7 linked regions of the Homo sapiens genome follow. The protein of the gene in region 1 purifies or fractionates together with the protein of each later gene. This does not show direct contact. Each region holds a gene or a part of one and is shown on either strand. Other genes may lie near its edges.

Evidence for each region.
Region 2: the proteins of PPP4R3A (region 1) and GRK6 purify together in Homo sapiens (affinity purification with mass spectrometry; one large-scale study listed by BioGRID and IntAct). This does not show direct contact.
Region 3: the proteins of PPP4R3A (region 1) and HNRNPR fractionate together in Homo sapiens (co-fractionation; one large-scale study listed by BioGRID). This does not show direct contact.
Region 4: the proteins of PPP4R3A (region 1) and CAST fractionate together in Homo sapiens (co-fractionation; one large-scale study listed by BioGRID). This does not show direct contact.
Region 5: the proteins of PPP4R3A (region 1) and EHMT1 fractionate together in Homo sapiens (co-fractionation; one large-scale study listed by BioGRID). This does not show direct contact.
Region 6: the proteins of PPP4R3A (region 1) and COBLL1 purify together in Homo sapiens (affinity purification with mass spectrometry; one large-scale study listed by BioGRID and IntAct). This does not show direct contact.
Region 7: the proteins of PPP4R3A (region 1) and NUCKS1 fractionate together in Homo sapiens (co-fractionation; one large-scale study listed by BioGRID). This does not show direct contact.

What each region holds. Positions count from the first base shown.
Region 1 is NC_000014.9:91,458,311-91,461,810, forward strand, and holds part of PPP4R3A (serine/threonine-protein phosphatase 4 regulatory subunit 3A), read right to left. Parts: intron 3,298-3,500; coding exon 3,071-3,297; intron 560-3,070; coding exon 449-559; 3' UTR 1-448. UniProt on the Homo sapiens protein: Regulatory subunit of serine/threonine-protein phosphatase 4. May regulate the activity of PPP4C at centrosomal microtubule organizing centers.
Region 2 is NC_000005.10:177,440,034-177,443,391, reverse strand, and holds the end of GRK6 (G protein-coupled receptor kinase 6), read right to left. Parts: intron 2,693-3,358; coding exon 2,555-2,692; intron 2,474-2,554; coding exon 2,339-2,473; intron 2,148-2,338; coding exon of another isoform or gene 2,142-2,147; exon of another isoform or gene 2,039-2,141; intron 1,658-2,038; coding exon of another isoform or gene 1,656-1,657; coding exon 1,602-1,655; coding exon of another isoform or gene 1,565-1,601; 3' UTR 501-1,564; downstream 1-500.
Region 3 is NC_000001.11:23,337,785-23,341,284, forward strand, and holds part of HNRNPR (heterogeneous nuclear ribonucleoprotein R), read right to left. Parts: intron 3,237-3,500; coding exon of another isoform or gene 3,225-3,236; coding exon 3,068-3,224; intron 825-3,067; coding exon 706-824; intron 78-705; coding exon 1-77. UniProt on the Homo sapiens protein: Component of ribonucleosomes, which are complexes of at least 20 other different heterogeneous nuclear ribonucleoproteins (hnRNP). hnRNP play an important role in processing of precursor mRNA in the nucleus.
Region 4 is NC_000005.10:96,661,061-96,665,175, reverse strand, and holds the start of CAST (calpastatin), read right to left. Parts: upstream 2,801-4,115; 5' UTR 2,754-2,800; coding exon 2,679-2,753; intron 2,152-2,678; exon of another isoform or gene 2,040-2,151; coding exon of another isoform or gene 2,010-2,039; intron 1-2,009.
Region 5 is NC_000009.12:137,832,005-137,834,315, forward strand, and holds part of EHMT1 (histone-lysine N-methyltransferase EHMT1), read left to right. Parts: intron 1-2,311. UniProt on the Homo sapiens protein: Histone methyltransferase that specifically mono- and dimethylates 'Lys-9' of histone H3 (H3K9me1 and H3K9me2, respectively) in euchromatin.
Region 6 is NC_000002.12:164,695,324-164,698,823, forward strand, and holds part of COBLL1 (cordon-bleu protein-like 1), read right to left. Parts: intron 514-3,500; coding exon 1-513.
Region 7 is NC_000001.11:205,726,183-205,729,682, forward strand, and holds part of NUCKS1 (nuclear ubiquitous casein and cyclin-dependent kinase substrate 1), read right to left. Parts: intron 3,440-3,500; coding exon 3,390-3,439; intron 1,624-3,389; coding exon 1,518-1,623; intron 1-1,517.

The sequences.
Region 1 (3,500 bases):
TATGATTTTAAAGGCAGGTCTCTTTATACAAAGAAACTGCTGGCATTCTTGACTAGTGAAGAATTATGGCAGAAAGGCCCATTCTTCTGAGTCTCAAACATGGTCCAAGAAAGCATATTCTGATTGTAGCAACTGACCAGTCAATCCAGAGTTCCACTTACAAAACCCCTGCCCTGTTGGCTTTTTGTTTCCATTTCCTTCCCTGAGAAAAGGGCAATGTGTGGTCCAAGCTGGAGAGCTCAAAGGCTTAAGTCTTTCCCCTAAATATATGATATCCCCTCCTCCTGCTCCATTGAATTGGCACTTGATGAGCAGAAGTCAAGTGTAAGAGGCTGATCTGTGTCAGTCATTCACAAGAGACCACTGCGCTTTGTTGTGGATTTTGTATGGGGGAGGGGTGGAGAACCAGTTTTTTTCAACAGGTACTGATCCTAGGCCGTTGCCATTATTATGAATCAAATTTTGCTTTCTTTGACAATGGTAACGTATCTTCCTTATCTTCATCCTCATCATCATCTTCATCATCATCAGGATAATCTACCAGACCCACGAGGCCTCCCTGTTAAGAAATAAGGATTATTTAAAGAACAGAAAATAAAACATATAAAAACACTGGTGTTTTCTGGCTGGAGAAAGAAAATAGATCCTACCAACATAGTAACGGTGGTTATTTCTGGGTGGTGGGACTGTGTTAAACTTCAATTCATTATGTTTACATATTTTCTAAATTTCCTGTAATAAACATGCATACTTTTTTACAATAAGGGAAAACTTTGAGTTAATTAGAATTAAAGCAAAAATTTTTTTTTTCCAAGTCGGAGTCTCGCTATGTCACCCAGGCTGGAGTGCAGTGGTGCGATCTCGGCTCACTGCAACCTCCACCTCCCAGGTTCAAGCAATTCTCCCTGCCTCAGCCTGCCGAGTAGCTGTGATTACAGGCGCCCGCCACCACGCCTGGGTAATTTTTGTATTTTTACTAGAGACAGGGTTTTGTCATGTTGGCCAGCCTGGTCTTGAACTCCTGACCTCAGGCGATCCACCTACCTTGGACTCCCAAAGTGCTGGGATTACAGGCATGAGCCACTGCACCCAAACTAAAGCAAAAAAATTTAAGTAGTTTATAATCCTAGCAAATTACCCAGGAGTTAGAAAATGAATGAAAAATGTTTGTTTCAAGACTTAATAGCATCTTAAAATTTTTTTAAACATAAAGTCTAAAATAGTATAAAAATGAGGCTGAGCATGGTGGCCTGTGCCTGTAATTCCAGCACTTTGGGAGGCTGAGGCGGAGGGATCACATGAGGACAGGAGTTTGAGACCAGCCTGGCCTGTTAATTAACATAGTGAAACCCTGTCTCTAATAAAATTACAAAAATTAGCCAGGTGTGGTGGTGCACATCTGTAATCCCAGCTACTTGGGAGGCTGAGGCACAAGAATCGCTTTAATCTGGAAGGTGGAGATTGCAGTGAGCTAAGATCACGCCACTGCACTCCAGCCTGGGTGACAGACTGAGACTCTGTCAAAAAAAAAAAAAAGTACCAAAATGAAAACTGCAGCAGATAAAGAGACCACCAGAAATGAGGGTAGACAGGCTTTTTCTATTTATTAGAGGTTAGGAAAGCAGTTCTACCCTGACTCTTCCTCATCATTTCATCTGGGTTTCCTTTTAGCCCTGCTCCTTCACCAGAAACCACTGCCGCTTGCTTTATTTATTTTTTGAGATGGAGTCTCACTCTGTCGCCCAGGCTGGAGTGCAGTGGCGCCATCTCAGCTCCCTGCAAGCTCCACCTCCCGGGATCACACCATTCGCCTGCCTCAGCCTCCTGAGTAGTTGAGACTACAGGCGCCCGCCACCACACGCGGCTAATGTTTTTGTATTTTTAGTAGAGACGGGGTTTCACCGTATTAGCCAGGATGGTCTCGGATCTCCTGACCTCGTGACCCACCCCCCTGGACCTCCCAAAGCACTGGGATTACGGGCGTAAGCCACCGCGCCTGGCTGCTGCTTGCTTTATTTCGATGCTAAGGGAAAAATTCACACTGCTCTGCTCTCAAGCCTGCCTCTTCATTTCAGCGTGTCTCAGATTCACTTCTTAGCCGTCAGGAGTCTCCAGCTCACGCCAGAAAAAAAAAAGACTGAATGGGCATTACGTGTCTGATTTAGATCAGTGATTCCCAAATGCCAGTCTTTTAACTGCTAGTCTGCTAGCCCAATAATCAATATATTATGTCTCAAAAGAAAAGGGTGGTTGGCATAAGGAGCCCCCAAAACTGGTTTTATTCTGAGATTGCATGTTTTCTACATTTTTTCTTAAGATTTTGTTCCTTTTTTTTTTTTTTTTTTTGAGATGGAGTCTCGCTGTTGCAGTAGCGATCTCAGCTCACTGCAAGCTCCGCCTCCCAGGTTCATGCCATTCTCCTGCCTCAGCCTCCAGAGTAGCTGGGACTACAGGCGCCCGCCACCACGCCTGGCTAATTTTTGTATTTTTAGTAGAAACGGGGTTTCACCACGTTAGCCAGGACGGTCTCGATCTCCTGACCTCGTGTCCTGCCCGCCTCAGCCTCCCAAAGTGCTGGGATTACAGGCGTGAGCCACCGTGCCCAGCCCTTGTTCATTTCTTATATGAAATGTTAGTGATAGTAGATGTTTAATTTTCTTAACAAACCTTAACTGGCAAAGTAAAGTTAGAAGTACCCAGATATTTAGATTATCATTTCCCCACAAAGGCTTTATCTGGGTATTAGTTAGGAACATTTATTCAAGAATAACTGAAAACCTTGAACATTTCTGTAAATGTTTTGACATACAAATTTGAAGTTTCAGTTCTAAAATCCAAAATACCCAAGTGAGAATTCACACTATATGCAGACTTGCATTGGTCATAAAAAAAACTTTCAGAAATTTCTCAACCTTTATATAAGTTCAAGCGGTGGGGGGGACTCATCCTCTAGTTCAGGGATGTTAAATCAGTTCTAGGTGGCAGTAACCAAAGGGAATCTTAGTCAAAATTATTGTTGAGAAAGCTTCAATTGGGAAAAAAGGGGGCAAAATGGGAGTCAAGAATGTACCTTTGTAGTAATAGCTGCCGTCTGAGATGTATTTTTAGGTACGGATCCAGGAGAGCCTGGAGATCCTGGGGATCCAGGTGATCCCGGAGAACCAGGCAGATTTGTTGTAGATGACTGGCTGGTGAGGTTAGTCTTCGTTCCACTGGACAGGGAAAGCTTGAAACTTGGGCTCTGCCGTCCAGAAAGGTTTGTTTTCAGAAGCACTTCCTTTTCCTCACTTTCTTTTACTAAAAATGAGAATACTGTCAATAGTCGTCCCCCATACTTCTTTTTTAAATTTCCCCAAATGAGGTAACACTAAAACACATTTAACTAGCTTACTACGCTGGGTAGAAACATTGAAGTTCAATTTATAAAAGAAGCTTACCAAAATACTAACCACAATTCCATTCATTGGATCTTACCCCAGAGAAGAATTGAAACCTTCAGA
Region 2 (3,358 bases), on another chromosome or scaffold:
TCTTTGCCCATAATGTGTCAAGGGCAAAACAGAGGGGTGGATATGATGCACGTGCCTCAGCCCGGGGCCCGTACATGGCTGGCGTCCAGGTAACGCAGGCCTGGGGCAGACATTCCTTACACAGCTCCCACCCTACTCTTACGTCCACATTTAGGCAGCCAGGCCACCTTAGCCTTGGAGGGGAGGACACCAACGGGGCCCGCCTTACCAGCAGTCAGAAACAGACCCACATCCCAGTGGGTACCCAAGGCTTCTTTCCTTAGGCCCCATCCCATTTAGGAAGTTGGGAAACCCACTGGGTGAGCCCAAAGGCTACCAAAGCCTGGCTGTCTGGAGAGGCTAGTTCAGAGTCAGCCCTGGGGGCTCCTGGGCCTCGGAAGGGCACACCCTGCTTCCCTCCAGGCCCACCTCCAATCCCTTCCCGCTTCCAGCTGGGCCAGGGGAGCAGGAAGACCCCTGGAGCACCGGAAGCAAGAAAGAGGCAGGCAGGGGCGGCTAGCCAGGTTTGTGCTCGGACTATTCACACAGAGACATGTGGCAGCTTACGTTGGACAAAACGAGTAATAAAAATTGGCTTTAAATATGGAAAAAACAGGGCCCTGTAATCCCATGCTACCCTAACACTGGGACCAGGATGGCCATCACAGTCTGGGAAGGGCCAGGGCTGGGACCTGGGGCACAGGCACAGCCTCGCCCTATCCCCTTCACCCACACAGGTACACACGCGCGCGCACGCACCCCACAGGCGCACACAGGAAGGGGCGGATTATTGCTGGGCACATGTGTCTATTGTTATGAGGGGAGTCCGGAATGTTTGAGGGTTGACCAGGGATGCCCCACCCCCTCCTAGGGGCTGGGCTTGGGCGTTTCTGAAAGAGGTGTCTGCAGGACAGAGCCCAGTATCAGGGACCAGGCTGTGGGAGCTGGAAGGCAGAGGCAGACCTATCTGGGCCGGCCGGGGCAGTGGGCTGATGGGTATCACAGGCAGCCCAATCTCTGGCCACTTTGGCACAGGCCTAGGGCATACAGAGGCCCCAGACCCAGCGCTGACAAGCACTGAGAAGGGACAGCTTTGGGCCCCAGAGGGTAGCAGCCTGAGCCCAGGGCAGCAGGGGGAGGCACGAGTCTTACTCAGAGGCCGGGGTGGCCAGCACAGTGCTGAAGGCTCAGGGGTGTGACCACCCTCAGCCATCCAAGCTGGGCCAGAGGAGCCTTGAGTTTGGCAGTGGCTCCTCTGCCAGCTCCCGCTCTCCCAGCCAGGGCTGGCTGCCCCCAGGAGCCAAGGCGGGGGCGCCAGGTCTGCGGCGGGAATTAAGAATGCTCTGGTCGCTATATACATTCGTACAAATACATAAATACAGAAAGCCCCGAGCTCCACGGAGAAGAGCTGAAGGGACGCACCTTTGTCCCAGGGATGGCCCAGGCCCTGCCAAACTCAGCCAGGCCAGGGGCTGAGGGACGGAGGACACTGGGGACAGCTCCGTCTGTGTTCCCCAGGCCACGACTTGAGTGGACAATGGGGAAGATCACTGTGCAAAACTGTAAACGGCGCTCGGAGTAGCTGCTACCGCCAACTGCTGGTGGGGGCCTCGGGCTGGGGGCTAGAGGCGGGTGGGGAGCTCTTCCTCGCTGTCGCTGCAGTTTCCACAGCAATCCTGGAGGGACGGGGAAGACACGGAGGGAGGGAGAGAGGCAGAGCAGGTGCCATTAACCACGAGGGACGTCACATGGGGCCGACCCTGCCAGGGCAGGCCAGGAGCTGCCTGAGGGGTGCACTCTGGGGAGGGGCCTCTCCACAAGGAGCCTGGAGCAGCAGCTCAGGCCACACGTGGGTGGGCGTCATTGCAGAGGCTGCCGGCAACAGACTGAAGTAAGGGGGCTGGGTAGATCCCACGGTCTGCCAGGGCAAGGCCTCTGCCCAGCCCTCTCCCCTGGGGCTGGCAGAGACAGGGCACGGGGAGACAAGCGAAGCAAAGCTGGCAGCTCGAAGGGGCCAGGGTGCAGGGGATCAAAGCAGTGGGCAGGGGGAGTGGGGCGGGCACCAGACTTCTTTCTCCCACATCTTGCCTTTGCCATGGAAGGGCTGCCCGTGGCTCCCCGAGGCCAGGCAGCAAGGCCAACCCACGGGGAGCCCACACTGCTCACCTCTGGAAAGAGAAAAGAGGCCATGAGCCCAGCCAGGGGTGGGGGACAGGCGGGAATGAGGCCAGAGACCCTGGGCACCACAACAGGACTGGAGGACGCCCACTCCCAGCGCATGCGGGCACCGGCTCTGCCTCCCACCCACCGTCCCCTGGAGCCAGGTTAGGGGCCCAGGTAGGCCGCTGCTGGGGCTTACTTGGCGACTGAAGAGTCTCTGCAGCAGTCCCTTTTTAGGAGGTGCAGGTGGCTGGCCCTTCCAGTCCAGGTCTGGGGGAACTGAGCCATCCAGCCCAAAGACATTCAGCTCTTGGAAGCACTCGGTCTCCACCATCTGCTGAGGAGCAGGCGGCTGTGACAGCTGTCCCCAGGGCAGCCTCCTGGAGCCCACCCCACCAGCAGGGCAGGCCCCCACCTCGTTCTGCCAGGGGATGGGCACACTGCCTGTGGCAAACTTCTGGTAGAAGTCCTGGTCGGTAGGCTCCAGCTCCACGCCCTTGACCGTAGAGAACTGTTCAATGTCCAGAACATCCTTGCAGTAAATGGCCTGGGGCTGGTGGGACAGAGGCAACGGTCAGATAGGAAACACACACACGCACACGCGAAGGCAGCTCAGCCCTGATTCTGCCTCGGGTCTTGGCCTAGTGCTGCCTGACACCAGCAGCTCTCTGATTTGGAGAAACCAGGTGCCCCACGCACTTCCTAAGTGGGGCAGGCCCTTCTCTCCGAAGCCTGGTTTTCCCCTCTGTGAACTGCGTACGTTATTCCTCACTGCTCAATGACTGTGAGGCTGTGTAAAGGCCAATGCCAGGCACCTCCTTCGCCTGCCCACAGCTTCCTGGGTATGCAGTTGGGGCGGGGAGTACAGGCTGAATCTCAGCCGGCCCCTCCGCTGGGCACCACCACGCAGAGCCTGGAGCTGGTGACTCCCTGGCTCCCCGCCCTGCGATGACCTGGGACTTGCCGTCTTCTCTCCCAGCCAATCAGAGGACTGGCACGGTCTCCCACTGCTCCACCTCCCCAGACCCACACTGGGAGCCCACCTCAGCTCCAGGCGGCCACCTTCTTTTTTTATCTTAACATTGTTTTCTAAATCCTTCAATTAAGATGTCAATTAAAATCATTGTCATGTAAAATGGTACAGCTGCTTTGGAAAACAGTCTGGCAGTTCCCCAAAAGCTTAAACATCATTACCATATGACCTAGTAATTCTACTCCT
Region 3 (3,500 bases), on another chromosome or scaffold:
GACTCTTGCACCTTGCTCCCCTGTTTCTCTCTCTGCCTGTAGGTCTTCATAACTCCACATAAAAATGCACTTTTGTTCTAGAACAGACAAGTAATTCAATAAAAAGAATCACCAAAAATATCTGAAGGGTCAGATACATAATTAAATTTAAATTTCAGAAAACCAGGATTTTAACAAAAGATTTACTGATTCATTCAACAAGTATTTGCCGAGTGGTTACTATGTGCCAGAGATTGGAGCAGACAGCAGTAAGGCAGTATAGACCTCAGGGAGCTTACCTTCTACCCTGGGAAAACACAGTCTTCCACTTGTTGATATGTGACTGTATCTAGACTGTCTTTGCCAGATGTCGGAAACTATTCCTCCCACCTACATTTTCCTCCAAGATAATAAAACAGGATCAAATAACCCCCAAATGTTAAAAAGCTGAGTAACATGTAAAAACCTATAGTAACAACCATCAAAACTTGGCTTTAATTTTAAGTTTTTAAAATAACTTACTGCACAAGGGGGTGGGAGAAAACTTTTGCTTTATACTTGGGCTTCTGAAACTCTGCCACAAGCAGTTTTTTTCCTTTAAACTAATTTTTTAAAAGAAGAGGTAGTCACAAACAAAAAATACCACTTCTCCATAGGAAAAAAAGTAATAGTAAAATAATTTCAGATTACTAATTGTTCAAAGACATTTCTGAGTAACGACCTTACCTGAACATGTGATAAGTCACTTTCCTTGAACTGCTGTAGTACAGACAGAGCTCCTTCTTCATTAAATTCCCTGAGAGCATCAATTGCTCTTTCATCAAGATCGACATAAGCTACCAATCCTAAAAATTAAATTGAAAGGGGTAACGTTATTGCAACAAAAGGGGTAATCTAAGCTCTACTGACGTTTAATCAAGAATTGTTACATTCAATATGATCACTAACAAACTGTATTTTCATTTAACTATATGCATATACGCAGCTATCCAAATACTACATAGAAAGGTCCAGGACAAATATGAAAATAAAGATAAAATGTCAACAACCAAAAACATGAATTTCAATCTCCATATCCACAAACCTCCCCCGCCAAATCCTAACATCCATTTCCCACTCCCCCAAAGGTATAAGTCTTGAAAGTTAAATCTGATGTACATACTGTATTACAGATTATGCATTAATACAACAAATTTTGGTTTATATTAGAGTGATAAGAATACATTGCGTTTTCCAAGGATAAACCTTCAAATTACAGACGGTTACAGTTGATGCTAACCACCTAAGAGGTGGAGGAAAATCTGAAAACAAATTTTACTAAGTAATTCTTTCCACTCTCCAAAAAGTGTCAAAAGGCTTTCCCTCCTGAACACCAAAGATAAACTGAAATGCATTTGTTTATCTGAGCATCCACTTTGCTGCAGTCAGAATGTGGAAAGGCATAATTTTAAACTTCTACAAATGCAAGTGCAGCTTGATTAATCAATTCTGAAAGTCATACTTTAAGGCATTCTTTGTTCTTCTGAAGTGACAAGCTGAGATTTAAAAGATGCTGTGGCATTCACATTGACTGTCAAGAACGACAATCATTTTCAAATGGCAATAAAGACTTTATGGTCTTACAAGTAAACTTGACAGAAAATATATACACTGCATTTCATATATGTAAGTATATTCAACTGCACACAGAACATCTACTAAGTTTAAAATATAATTTCTTAAGTCTGTTAAGTTTGTGTCATATTTACATATGGAATATATTTCAGAATTGATCCAACGTAAAATGCAAGTATTTCGTAGATTAAAACCCCCAAGTTCATATGAACATGAAAAGTGACTCCATTTTGATAAAGCTAAAAAGAACTTTATTCCATATAGTAAATTTTAAATAAATGTAATGCCACTTCCAAAGTTACTTTTTAAAAAAGTTGCCATGATTTGTTTCAAAAGCTCGAAATGAGCATGTGTAAATAACTGGAGCTGCCTCACTTGAATATTCCATACCACCACCCGAAGCCACAACTCAGGACACCCATCAATCCATTTTGTCAAACCAAGTCTACGCCCAAACCATCAGCCTCTTATCAATAACAAAACACTCTACAAGAGAGCATCTCTAAGCAGATCACTGCCAATTCTCTATGGCAGAATGTCACAGAAAGTTCCTGAGGACTGATTTTCAAATGCGACCATGACCCAGGAGTCATTTTTATAAGTCATTTTAATGTCTAAAATTATGCTAAGCTTCCCAGATTTAAAAATTTTTTAAGGACAAAAAAAAAAAAACAGCTATTTGCTACTACTGTACTTAAGACACATTTGTGAGTGAGACAATTCAATTCTCTCTCAGAATCTGAATAGGCACACACAACACAGAGGAAGAAAGTTTCCATCTATGTCCCCAAAGGAGGAGGACACATTCATTTATGAACAACGCTCCCTAAGGGTAAATATTTCTCTCCCTCTTTAAAACTTCAAACCACTTACAACCAACTATATTAAGATGTTCAAATTTGCTTAAGCACTTAACCATGGCACTTCTGGATTAAAAAAAAAAAAAAGAAGCAGCTGTTACAACCAAACACTTCCAAATTACGGAGAGATGTGGATTTCTATTAGAAACTAGACAAGCCACAAACTCTCAAGGAGTCTGACATTTATTATGGTTTCAGACGATACAGCTATCCTCTTGTTATGCCACCTAATCAGACCTAAGCTGATTTAACAATCACTTTAAGAAGGTAAAAGTAGAAAAGCAAAAGCAAAATGATGACTGATTTTGATTAAGAAAAAAATGTAAAATTTGGTATGCAGAAACATACATTTTTATGGGTGGTAAATCTAAGACAAATCGATGTGCTGTTCTGAAACAACTAAGACTGCATATTCAACACTAAGAAGGCTTCAAAATAATGAAATAAGAGTATCAAAGTCAAACCCAATATGCCTTCAATGAAGGGAAAGTAACAAACATTCAGCTCTACAGATCAGAAACAATAAGTATTATTTAACCTTAAAAAACTATAAAATTCAAAGTGGTTTGCCCTCACTTTCATAACCAGTCAGAAACAAGAAATGCATATTATACCTGTCTGAAATATTTCATCAAGTCTTTCTGCCACCTTCTGTGGGAGGCCTGCCTCTATCAGTGTCTTGTAGTGTTCTGTGTGAGTTACACTGGAAGTATCCATTGGTTCTTCCTCTTCTTTTAACTGTACCGCATTACCATTCACCTGATTAGCCATTTTATTATGCTGCTGGAAAAAATTCAGGAGCTATATTACATTAAGCCAGAAATAACTAGTTTGTAGGACAATGCATGATTTATCTAAACTAATTTGTATACATGCTGCTAATAACCTCTATCAAAATAATAATTTATTCCTCCTGTGATGTATCTGACCTAAATTGGCAATAATAATCCTGTAAAACCATAGAAAATGTACATGGAAGCATTAGATCTTTAAGGAACTTCATGTACACCGGGTAAGATAAAGGCTTTAATTTACTGAAGGTAGAAT
Region 4 (4,115 bases), on another chromosome or scaffold:
GGCAAAGCTAAAGCTTGATCACAGGCATGTAGCTGGTTCTAGGAAGTTCCTACTAGCAAAAAGTTTTCATGGTAGTACCAAAATGGGATTCTAAGAGAGGTTTTAGCAAAAACATCAGACTGTGACTAAACAAAACAGGGTTAAAAGCATAGATTCAAACTACTTTCATCCAAGTAACCCAGCAGAGTTTCCTTGAGAGAATCATGAGTCTGGAAGGAGAATTTTGATGTCAACTCTGAACTACTGCTATCCATATTTGCAGATAAGGTACATGGTACATTTTGATAAGAACCTTAGGCCAATAATGACTCAAAGCAAATTGATGTGGTTTGTTCTTACCACATCAATCAAATGCTACATGTAAAAGCCCAGGAAATGTACTGGAAAACATTCATGAAGAAGTATCTCAAGGGAAATTGGAATTCCAAATTCTTAAAAGTATATGTGTATGACATTTTGACTTTTAAATCTAATTAGTCCTCACCAATACTTATGTAGTGCATATAATTTCTATTTTACACATGTGAAAACAGGTTGAAAAGGTTGACTTATTTCCATTTGAGAAAAACTCTTTGTTCTCCACAGTGTACATGGAGGCTTTAAAAAGCACCTGTAGGCCCAGTGCAGTGGCTCATGCCTGTAATCCAACATTTTGGGAGGCTGAGGTGGGAGGATTGCTTGAGACCAGGAGTTTTAGACTAGCCTGGGCAACATAGTGAGAGAGACCCTGTACAGTATATTGTATGTGTGTGTGTGTGTGCATATATATATATATTTACACATATATATGCACACACATATATATGCACACACACATATATTTACATATATATGCACACACATATATTTACATATATGTGTAAATATATATATGCACACACACTGTAAATATACACACATACACACTATACATATATACTATTTATATAGAAACGGAGAATAAAAAATAATCTAAAAAAAAACACTACTTGTGGGATATAATTCTGCCTGGCACATAATAGATGATCAATAAATGTCCATTGTCTGATAAGTAACAGTTTCTTTCTTGATTCTTATACAGGGTAGCTAGCTCCAAAGAATGTCTGATTCCAACATCTTTGCTTTTTCCAATACCACATGCCAAGAGAGAAAAAGACATACCTAATTTTTTAATTCTCACCATAAATCAATGAGACATAAACATTTTGGCTCTCACTGTCAACAAAACTCCTGTGTGTGATTTTTTTTTTTTTTTTTGGAAAGCAATCTAATGTTAAATCATGCTTCCTGGTTCCAAAACACTAGAAGTGCCAGCTTGACTGGATATTACACCTAATTGGCAGGACAAACATTCAATGCACCAAACAAATGGAATGTTCTTGTCCCTCATCCAAAGTAATAAAGTGCAGAGAAGCTCGCTTTTGTGCGCGCTGTCTCTCTCTCCCTCCCTCTCTCACTTTCTCGCTTTCTTTCCTCCACCCCTCCACCGCTCTCTCCAAGGGTCTTGGTCTCAGATCTCAGTTGCTTCTGCCCCTTGATGTTTGGGATTTTCTCCTTGCCTCACATTGCAGCTGCCTCTCCTTTGCGTCGGCGAATGTACGTCCAACAATCGCCCTCTAAAAGTTTTGAACTTTACTTAGGGGTTAAAAAAGAACTCTAGATCAAAGCTCTTGCGAGCTGCGTCCTAGTGCATTCAGGAATCCACCTCCTAGACAGAATTCCTCCAGCAACAATTCCAGTTCCATCCCACTTGTGAGCGCCAGCAGAGCATAGTGCTTGACATCGGGGCGAGAGAGGTGCATGCGCCGCGCACGCTCGGGCGCGCTCATACATACCACAAGAGGGTGAGTCCCCTGCCTCTCCCCGAGCCTAACCTGAAGGTCTGCGAGGAGGTCGCACCCGGTCCGCACCCCTTCCCCGCCAAACCCCGGACAACGCTTCATCCGCACGCCCAGAAGGGCAAAGCAAACACACTCCCTTCCAACACACTCCCTTCCGGGTCCTGCCCAGGCACAACCGCTCCTATTTACCGTCTTGTACCACCAGCTGGCGAATGCCATGGCAACAACCGGCTGGCTCCGATCCGCACGGCGGGGGAGCCGGCGAGGGCGCGGGGTGTTGCGTTGGAGGCGCCGGGCTCACACTCCGCTTGGCCGGGACCGGGCTGGCACTGAGCTCCGCACATCCCAAGGCGGCTGCCAGGTGGGCAGAACCCTGGGGGTGGGGCCCGGCGCAGGCCCCGCCCCTCCTCGCCCGCCCAATTTGGCTCGAGGCTGGTTAGGGAAGAGGCTCTGCGTCTCCAGGCAGCCACGCCCTGCGGCCCGGCCTTAGCGCGGAAGACTACATCCCGCTGTCCAGTGAAACCACCCCACTCACTCGGGGGTCCTGAGTGAACCTCATTCCCCGTTCATCCTCATCCTCATTCACCCACGTCTTACCAGCCAACTTTTCTTGACGCGTCCCCCCCTCCACTCTACCCGGCCAACGCCACGCCCAGCGCACTGGACCCGGCCGGGGAACCGAAGCCACCTGCAGCCACCTGCCTGGCAGCGGCCAAGCCCCTAGCCCTCTCCCTGCCCCGCGGGGGCGCCGGGGACTGCAGACCCGCCAGCCTGGCAACGCCCAGGGAGGGCGGCCACAGCTCCGGGACCCGGTACCCCATCGCCCAGCCCCGCGACGCCGACAGGAGCGCCACTCACCTCATGGGTGCGGCGGGCGGCGGCTGCTCGCCGGGGCCGCGGGGAGGCGGCGGGCTTCTGGCCGGGCTGGGACATGGCGAGGCCGCTGCGGCCGCTGCCTCCCGGAATGCGCCGCGGAGAGTGGCGGGGAGGCCTGGCGGGGAGTCCTGCCAGGGAGAGAGGGAGGGAGGGAGGGAGCGGAGGGCCCGGGAGCGGGCGATGAAACAGCTTTTCCGACCCCACCCCAGGTCTGCGCCGGGGTTCCCCTAGCCCCGATGGGCCCTCCCCTTCCTGCCCGCGGAGGGACCCGGGCTCCTGCCCTGTAACTTAACACCCTCCGCCCCGGTCCTCACCCGGTGACCCGCCCCGGCCCCAGCACTGCTCTGGTCCCGGTTGGTCAGAAAGAAGGGGTTGGAGGTTGCAGCGTTCCTCCTTCGATGCCCAGATCTAGCTTGCAGTTGTGCAACGAGAGAGCGGGACCCGGGCGTGGCCAGTCTACGCTTCGACCCTCCTCCCAACAATCCGGAGAAGTAGATACTCTTTCTACATTCTGCTCCGCTTTAGCTGCGAGAGTTTACCAACTCAAATCTGGCCCAAGCCTGGACAGTCTAGATAAGGAAGCGGATCACAAAAACAAATTGGTCTGTGTGTGTGTGCGTGCGTGCACGCGCCTGTGTATGTTTTATATGATTTTACTTTGTTTTTTGGCAGTTTCGAATTTTAATAAACTTTTATGGGGAGGAGAACATAGGTTCCAATGCAAAACGGAGAACAGTCCCAAATTTAAACCCTTATAGTCTTTCTAGAGTCTGGCGAGTTTTGTTTCTGAAGCTAGATTGCTTTCTTCTTGGGCTCATCTTAAACAGCGCTTCCTGGTTTGGGGCTGGAAGTGAAATTTAACAAGCCCTACGTGCTTATGTGAGAAACTGTCAGCCTGCAGTTGCTGCTGGTTCACAATCAGGCCTGACAGAAAACCTGTTTGTTACCCTGCAGTAGCATCATCATTCTGGGACTTGGGGTCACCGCTTTCTGCAGCGTTGGGGTTTAGACAGTTGAAGAGAGAGAAGGCAGAGCCTTTTTTTTTTTTTTTTTTTTTTTTCTGGAGAGGCAGTTTCGCTCTGTCTGGAGTGCAGTGGCGCGATCTCTGCTCGCTGCAATCTCCGCCTCCCAGGTTCAAGCGATTCTCCTGCCTCAGTCTCCTAAGTACTTGGGACTACAGGCGCGTTGTCACACCCAGCTTTTTTTTTTTTTTTTTTTTTTTAATGGTAGAGACGGGGTTTCACCACGTTGGTCAGACTGGTCTCGAACAACACCTGACCTCAAGTGATCTGCCCAGTGCTGCCTCCCAAAGTGCTAGGATTACAGGCGTGAGCCACTACAGCCGGCCAGAAGGCAGATTTTAAGGAGAGATTTGTCATGCTATATGGAGCCTGGCAGAACAGAATTCTGGTTTCCTTT
Region 5 (2,311 bases), on another chromosome or scaffold:
CTCCTACGTGGCCGCTGCACTTCGCCCCAGTCCTAGGATTGGCTGGGCTCCCTCCACAGGCTCCGCCTCCTACGTGGCCGCTGCACTTCGCCCCAGTCCTAGGATTGGCTGGGCTCCCTCCGCAGAACCCCCCAACCCCACGTGGCCCCTGTGCCTTCCCTCCAGTCCTAGGATTGGCCAGGCTCCCTCCACAGGCCCCACCTCCTACATGGCCTGTGTGCCTTCATTCCAGTCCTAGGATTGGCTGGGCTCCCTCCTCAGGCCCCGCTTCCCACGTGGCCTCTGCACCTCGCTCCCGTCCTAGAATTGGCTGGGCTCCCTCCACAGGCCCCGCCTTCCACGTGGCCTCTGCACCTCGCTCCCGTCCTAGAATTGGCTGGGCTCCCTCCACAGGCCCCGCCTCCCACGTGGCCACTGCACTTTGCTCCCATCCTAGGATTGGCTGGTCTCCCTCAGGCCCCGCCTCCCACGCGGCCTCTGCACCTCGCTCCAGTCCTAGGATTGGCTGGGCTCCCTCCGCAGGCCCTCCCCCCACCCACCCATGTGGCCCCTGTGCCTTCTCTCCAGTCCTAGGATTGGCTGGGCTCTCTCCGCAGGCCCCGCCTCCCACGTTGCCTATCTGCCTTACTCCAGCCGTCCTTCTCTGGACTGTTGTCTTTATCTGGTTCTGGTCGGGCAGAGATTTGTGTCACAGACTTTGACACCCCACCCATCTTAGAAGCTCGGAGCAGCGCTGTGTGCTCTGCCAGACGAGCTGCCCCTGGTGAAAGCTGGGCCTGGCCCCTCCAGTCGGAAGCCCCTCACTCTCCATTTTGCTGCTTATCAAGACCTTCGTGTGTGCGCCGTTGCTAGTTCCGGAATTGCATTCTGCACGAGGAGGGGTCGCCTATAGATTCTTAGTCCATCAGACCCCGAAGCAGAGGCCAAAGTCCACGCCAGGTGAGCCACTCTGAACTCTGTTTCTTTGGGGTAAACCAGGAGGCAGCTTCCCGCGCCTTTGGCTTTGGGGGCTGTGGCTGGTCCTGTCCTGCGGCCGTGCTCGCCTGGTTTACTGTCTTGTCACTGCCCGCGCCGTGAAGGTTGACGGAGAGCTGCTCTCGTCCACGCCTTTACCCGCTTGTTGGTTTGGGTTTTAACCTCTTGACCTCTGAGCGTCCCTGGCTCTCTGGTTAATGTTCATGCTGGGGCAGGTTGTGGACCAGGTGTCTCTGCCGGCAGGCCCCGCCCTCTCGGAACTCGGTCCTGGAAAGCCCCAGGTGCCTCCTTCCCCGTCTGCCTGGCTGTCGTCTGTGGTGTTGCCTCTTCCCGTCGCTGGGTAACAAACCACGCCACCCACCCGCAGCTCGCCATGGCGGCCACCCACTCGGCCCAGTGTGCGCAGCAGGGGTTGGGCGTGCCGGGCCTCGGGCTGCACAGGCAGGGTGCTGCTGAGCCCAGGTCCCTGTGGTTGCGTGGGCAGCGTCTAGGTTCCTTGCTAGCTGCCGGCCGGGACCACCTACCTTACTCCCACGCAGCTCCTCCATCCAGGCCCCAGCAGCTCCAAGCCCTGGGTCTCCAGAGAGAATTGCTTTTAAAGGGGTTGCGTGGTTAGGTCAGGCCCACCCACCTCGTCCCCCTCTCTATGGTCAATTCAGAATCCATCATCACAGGCCAGTGCCAGGGGCCAGGGCCCAGGGCCATGTGGCCACCCGGAATCCTGGGCTCCTCTCCAAGGCACCAGGGTGAGGAGGACGCCTCAGTCTCTTCGGCCTCGTGTTCCACAGTCACATCAGCACCCGGAAGGGCTGCAGCAGAAGTCGTTTTCTGTGGGCAGCCTCCGCCTGACGGTCCTCCCTGGTGCCATTCGCCACTGAGTCTTCCCAGACCCTCTGGGGACTGCTCCGCCTCCTCGTCACCAAGACAGTGTGTCCCGGATGCCAGCTCCATCCCTCCCGACCCCCTCAGCCCCTGCCACTGCCTCACGGGGCTCTTGCAGCCCCGGCCTCCTTTCTCCTATTGGTGCCAGACAGCCCCATGGGTCCTCGGGTGGGATGGCGCTGTCCACATTCCACCGCGCTGGAAGCCCCATGGGGACGCCGTCAAGGGAACGGCCCGCACCACCCCCACCCCACCACAGACGGAGGCCCAGCGAGGACGGCAGGGTGCGGGGTGGGTGGCCACACAGCGAGGAGAAGGCTGGCGGAGGCTCCGCACCGCCGCCACAGGTCACTGGAGAAGGCCCCTCCTGCATGGCGGGCCTGCGCCCAACTGCAGGCTCCGGGACTGCCATGCATGGCCGTACCCGGCGAGGCCGGCGTGTCGGGGCCTTGCT
Region 6 (3,500 bases), on another chromosome or scaffold:
CTACAGGAGGCAAAAGATCATCATTACCATGTGCACAAATTGGATCTTTTACGGTAAGCGGATCTTCTGAATGTATAATTAGGGTGCCTTGACTCCTGAATTCCCTTGAGGTATTTACAGAATCTTGTGAACTTAAGCATGAGTGTTGAGTTGATATGTTGTTATTTGAAGTTTGCACACATTCTTCAACTTTGGAGTCAGATAAATTATGATCTTGGTGTTTCCCATCAAAACTGTTACAAGAAGGGGTTGTCTGAATTGCTGCATCTTTTGTCTTTTCTGCACTGGGTTGATTCAGTTTTTGATCTGGTACTGATGAAGCTGCTAGATGGTTTTCCTTGTAACTTATAGCAGTATCAGTTTCATGTGCCTCAGAGTTTGATGGTCTCTCAACTTCCATATCAATGTTGTTATTTTTGGCAACACCTTCTACATTGATTTCTGTTTTCTTCACTCCATTTTTCATATTGTCTTCTGTGTTCTCTGGATAGACAATTATTTCATTTTGAACTACTGAGAGAAAAAAATCATCAAGTTAAATATATGAAAGAAGTAGAAAACCTCAAGTTTTTAATGCCTACTTTCTCCAACCTGAAATAGTTTGGTTTGAATTCTACAGATAATTTTCAACTCACTGACTATATAAAGGTAGGTAGTAGCATACAGAGAAAACAGTACGTGCTTTGGATTCATACAGACTGAAGTTTGGAATCCCTGGCTTAACTAGTGTGGCCACAACATGTTAATTAACCCCTTTGAGCCTCAGTTTGCTCAGACATAAAAAGGTGAAAATATTTATATTATATGTGTATCATTTAGATAGCATGCTCATTAGTATATTGACCAGAATAAACACTCCATAGAAGGTAAATAAAGTTTTTACTTCTTAGAAGATGTCATTCAGTCATTGTTCATGACAAAAAATAGAAATTGACAAATTCAAAAACTGTATTTTTCCTCTATTTTGACTGTCTTTTCTATAGCCCCTAGCATATTTATATTTTCATACCTAACATTAAAAGGAAAAGAATCCCAGCAAATGCAGTTTTAATGAAGGCCTTAACAGAAAACATTAAGATTTATAGTAAAAACAGAATCTCAGTTGATTGTCTTGTTAACTAGGTATCTTTGCTGAAGGCTGTTAGAGGACTTTATTTTTAGTTATAACATGGGTGATTTCAATGACATGAAATCAGTCATAATGGTTTTGATTTTTCTCTGTTGGAAATAGGCATCCTTATTCTACAGTCAGAGTCAAAATCAAAGTAGAGAAAATAACCTTCCTCTCCCTTGCACTACTTTTCCTCTTGATTCTAATTCAGACCTCCTGAAAACAAAACTCATTTGCCAGTGTCTAGGTTAACAGAGCAACAGCTTCCAGTCAACAACATGATGGCAAAGCACTGGCAGGAGGCATGTGGAAGGAAACAGGGTTTGGAGTCTGCACCATGTGCCCAGTACCGAATTAAGTCATTCCTCTGCTCCTCTATTCAAATGCCCTGAAGAATCATGCTTCCTGCACCATCACTGTGCTTATCTTCAAAACCCTAGTGGCCTTTTCACATATGGCAATAGTTTGCACAGCACAAGTTAAATGTGAGCCTTGGGGGTCAAACTGTGAAATTATGTCAAGTTATTTCTCTATAGTTTTATCATTACCCACTATTACCTATAAGAATGAGATGAAGTACACTGCCTAAAATGTAATAAGCTATATTATATAGTTTCTCTCTTAAAAAAAGAAAAAGAAAAAAGATATGCATGCAGAAAAATATCATGTTAGGTAAATTTGTATACAATTTAAAAACATATCTTCACATTTTTAAACTCTGCCTGATTGCACAGTTATTTGGTTGTGGCAGTTAATATTCTATATTGTGTTGCAAGATTCCTATATTAAACATGTAATTTTAAAATGGAACTCATTTTTATTCTTCCCAGATAAAATGCAACTGAGTATCAGAATACGTACCATCTACTTAGGTGAATTCTTTTCTCAATGACCAATTATTATTAACTATTTTGATTTACAAAATTAAAGACCCATGTTCTTAGGAACCATAGAAGAGGCACATTTCTGCCTCTGCTCTCAATTTACTTGGTTCATAAGTATTTTTCAATGTTCATATGAAAAACACTATTTTGAACAGTTATAAGCATGAAAGAATTTAAGAAACAATCTCTGGCAGCAGGAAATGAGTCTAAATGTATTTCCTTCTTTCTTTCTTATTTCTAATTTTCCACTGAGTATATGTATTTCCCAGAAATATTTTCCAAAAGAAAGAAAGTCAATGTAAACATATATTTTAAATTGAATCCCCGTTTAAAAACCCTAATTTATTGGTTTTAGAATTATAAGTCTCTCTTTTTCATATTTTTGGTAGGTTACACCTACTTTACCATTGTCTAACTCTGAATTTCTTCTCAACATTTCATGATCATTTCCAGTGATTGGCAGTCCTGGAAACCCAGAATCCATCCTCATATACAACTGACAATGATGTTAACCAAGTGTTTATAAATGGCTAGATCATTTTCCAAGAATGGCCAGTAGAGGGAGAAGGTATCTTTTATACTATAGTGACCCTCTACTCAAAAGTGACACTGACATTGACAAACTTACAAGAAGGTGATTTAGATAAGGGTAGGTAAAAAGGAAAACAGAATAAAACTACTTTAAGAATAATAGACATTATTTACTTTAAAAAACAACTAGAGTTGACAAAAGTCGTAGCAAAACAAACCATATGCAAATCAAAGTACTACGTAAATGTACTTGTGACTCTGGCACTAACTTGACAACAAAAGTCTTAACAAAAATGATACAACTTGACTATTGTTTTAAAGAGAAAGAAGCAGCTTTTAAATCATAATTTCTCAATAGGAATGCTATTGCCATCACAGTACATGCTGTGAAAAACTGACTCAAGTGGAAAAGAATGAAAAAATTATTTGCTTTTAGACCTTCTCAGTATGATATCTCACAATGGTATTGAATGTGGGAGAAAATGAATCAGTAGCACACATAATCAAGTTAATGAACACATACCACACACATACAATTATATATATATATAATTATATATATAAGTATGACATTGCGATTATCTATGTCTTATTCAAATATGAATACTACATCCTAAGTTTTCTAAATATCTTAACCTAGTTTTCTAGATTAACATAATAGATTGGACTATGAGAATTCATAAGCCACTTCCTTCTTAACCCCTTAAAACACCATTGAGTATTTTTTGAATTTTCTATTTGCATAGGATTGTTTTTCTGAAATTCAATACTAAGTACATATTTTATGAGTATCTCAGGATTCTGTTAGGTGCCATGAGTAGTGCAAAGTATCACATGTAATTTATCTGATCCAAGACTGCCTAATTCAGTTGAGGAATCATAAATATAGAACCGCAAAGCTTCTAATAATCAAGTAAAAACATGAAATGATATGATTTGGATAAAAATTGAATGGGTAAAATAGATGAAAAATT
Region 7 (3,500 bases), on another chromosome or scaffold:
GAGTGAGACTGCCTCAAAAAACAAACAAACAAACAAACAAAAAACTGTTTTAGGCCAGGCATGGTGGCTCACACTGTAATCCCTGCACTTTGGGACGCTGAGATGGGAGGATCGCTTGAGCCCAGGAGTTTGAAACTAGCCTGGGCAACATGGCGAGAGCCCATCTCTATTAAAAACAAACAACAACAACTATGTTAGACATATACCAAGAAGCTCTAGAAGACTTGTTTCCCAACAGTATAATTCTGTATTATTTTTCCTTAAAAGCACACTTCTGAAATGCTCCAGCAAAAAAAGTATTAGAGGTTGTCAACATAAATAAAACTACTAGGTAAATACATGAATTTAATAATGATTTTGGTGCTCCAAGATTCTTAGAAGAAGCAGTGAGAAATATTTCATTTATTTGAACTGCTCATTTGTAATAGTATTATTTGGAAGTGGTATAGAGCTCCAATGGTTAAACAATGTACTTTGGAGTCCAACAGACATGGTTTCATAACCTGTTTGTCCATTTGCTGGATAACTTTGGTTAAATCACAGAACCCCTCTAAGAAGTTAATATTTACCCAAATAGAGATGATGTAAGAATTAAATGATAGTGTACGTAAAACACATAATAGAGATTGTCACATAATAAACAGTAGCCATCACCATCACTATAATCACCATTATCACCAAGAAGGTCTTGTTACACCAAGTGTAACAAGTTCATGTTACATCAAGTGTGAGAGTGTGTATAACTTTACTAACAAGGCAGAAATTACAATATCCTCGTCTTGTTGTTGTTTTTTTTTCCCAAGACAGTCCTGGCTCTGTCACCTAGGCTGGAGTGCAGTGGTGCAATCATAGCTCACTGCAGCCTTGAACTCCTGGGCTCAAAGGATCCTCCTGCCTCGGACTCCTGAGTAGCTGGGACTACAGGCAAGTGCCACCATTCCCGGCCAATTTTTAAATTTTTATGTAGAGATGTGGTCTCCTTATATTGCCCAGGCTGGTCTCAAACTCCCGGGCTCAAGCGATCCTCCTACCTAGGCCTCCCAAAGTCCTGGGATTACAAGCATGAGCCACCATGTACTCCTAATATCCTGGTCTTATGAGGCAAAATTATAGTTAAAATCACAACTCATTTGTAAAACTAAGGGAAAAGAAACTCTCCAAAATGGTTAAATTATTTAAACAAAGGAGAATTGATTATGAGACAGCAAAAGGCAGCAGGCTATACAACTTAAGATTCTACAAGCTTTAGTTGTAATTAATTGTGCCAGTGATTTGTGACTGAATGAGATATATCACTTATTTTTTGTTATCACTACAATGAAAGTGTCAGTATTAACCTTAGATAACAAATTGTATACTCGAGCACAGCCTGAGATAATATGAAATATGCAAAATATTAAGTGGACAGTAAGTACTTTTCAAAAGTATATGAGATTCCAACAATTTAGAGATCAGAGACTGCTCTCATCTCAGAGTGGTAACAGTGTAAGCAGGAACAGAAAAACAATGCCTCTTACCTATCTTCCTGTGAATTCTTTCCAGATCGCCTCTTATTTTTAGCTTCTCGGGGAGATGATCGAATTTTCTTAGTGGGAGGGCCCGAATCTCTTCCATAATCTTCATCTAAACAGTGTTTTTCAAACTTAATTAACTATGATTTTTACATGTTAAAATCACCACTATATTTACTGACATAATTATCTCTCATGCTGTTTAAATGGTGAGAGGAGCAGGATTTCCCAAATAGTTTCTTTCATCTTTAAAAAACTAAATTATTTCCCAACGCAGTCCTATCACCTTCACTTCGTTTTTGCATATTACCCTCTAGTCCTTATGATATATATTTCATCTTTCTATAGCTAAACCTCTCTCATCATTTTATACCCTCCCCTTTTGATTTCAACATCTTCACACTTATTTGAAAATTATTGTAATATGGTTATATTACAAACATTTTAGGAAGTAAACACAATTACTATTACTAAGCAAATTACTTTTAAACTAAAGCATTAAATACAACATAATCTTGCACTTGAAGAAAATATCTCCAATTTCAAAAGCCCTATAAAACTAAGGAAAATGACTCTACCTTAAAAGGAAATTATTTCCAAAACTGTTTACTGCACCATTTGCACACACACACATGCACACACACACACACACGATGGCGAGATGCTGGAAGTAGTCTGGAGCGTCAGCAATTATTAAGTGGTCAGAAACATTATAAATTCCATTATGGGATATTATATAACCATTGATAGGAATTTTTCAAATACCTTTTATTAACAAGATACTCAAAATAGAAATAATAATAGTATATCACACATTAACAGATTATTCTAAGTAAATATTAAATACAAACATTTGAAACAATTCCTGACATGTAGCAAGCATTTAATAAATATTAGTGCTACATATTATTTTTTTTCTCTTCTTCATATCTTTCAGTATTTTCTAAGTCTTCCCAAAGGGCACATATTATCTTTATAAAGAAAAGTTAGAATAAAAAGAAAGAAAAAAGAATAGTAAACATACCTGGAAAGTAATGAGATTAAGGAGACAACTCTGAAAAAACCTCTTATGGCTAAGACTTAGCTATACAACACTCATTCCTTGATGAATTAGTTCATAAATATAAGTTGTTTCACAAAACAGACTCTCATCTTAGTTGCTTTATTATGTAAAAACATAATACAAGGCACAAGTTTTATTGTAGTAACAGCAGGAGATTTTTTTTCCCCTGCAAAGTGCTGGGATTCATAGGCGTGAGCCACTGCGCCTGGCTGTAGTGGATTTTTTTTTTTGAGACAGGGTCTCTTTCTGTTGCCCAGGCTGGAGTGCAGTGGCGCCATCTCGGCTCACTGCAACCTCCGCCTCCCGAGTTCAAGCGATTCTCTTGCCTCAGCCTCCAGAGTAGCTGGGATTACAGGTGCATGCCAACACTCCCGGCTAATTTTTGTATTTTTAGCAGAGATGGGGTTTCACCATGTTGGCCAGGATGGTCTGGAACTCTTGACCTCAAGTGGTCCGCCCACCTTGGCCTCCCAAAGTGCTGGGATTACAGGCATGAGCCATGGCGACTGGCTGACAGCAGGAGATATTTTAAGCAATGAACACTGTATCAGAATTACTGGACATTTAAACTTTGGACTCCAAAACCAGGTAAGAAAAAAGCTTTTTAATGTTTATTATCAATGATTTACCAAGGAAAAGTTAAAATCCATGTAAGTTCAACTTTTGCTTTGGTTGACACAGATCATGACATGGTTTTGGTAAATGATCTAAAAATAAAAAAGTAAAACTTATTCCAAAAGCATAATAAAACTATATAAGCTGGTAACCTCCACTGGTCAGTCCAACTTAAAATTTGTTGAAACCACAAAACTTACCTGCATCATCAGATTCCTGAAACTGTGAGTAATCAACAACCTTCCTATTTCTGTAGAAAGAAGAGACTCTAATTAAAATCATAAAACTGTAGGATTTTTCTAAGACATCAG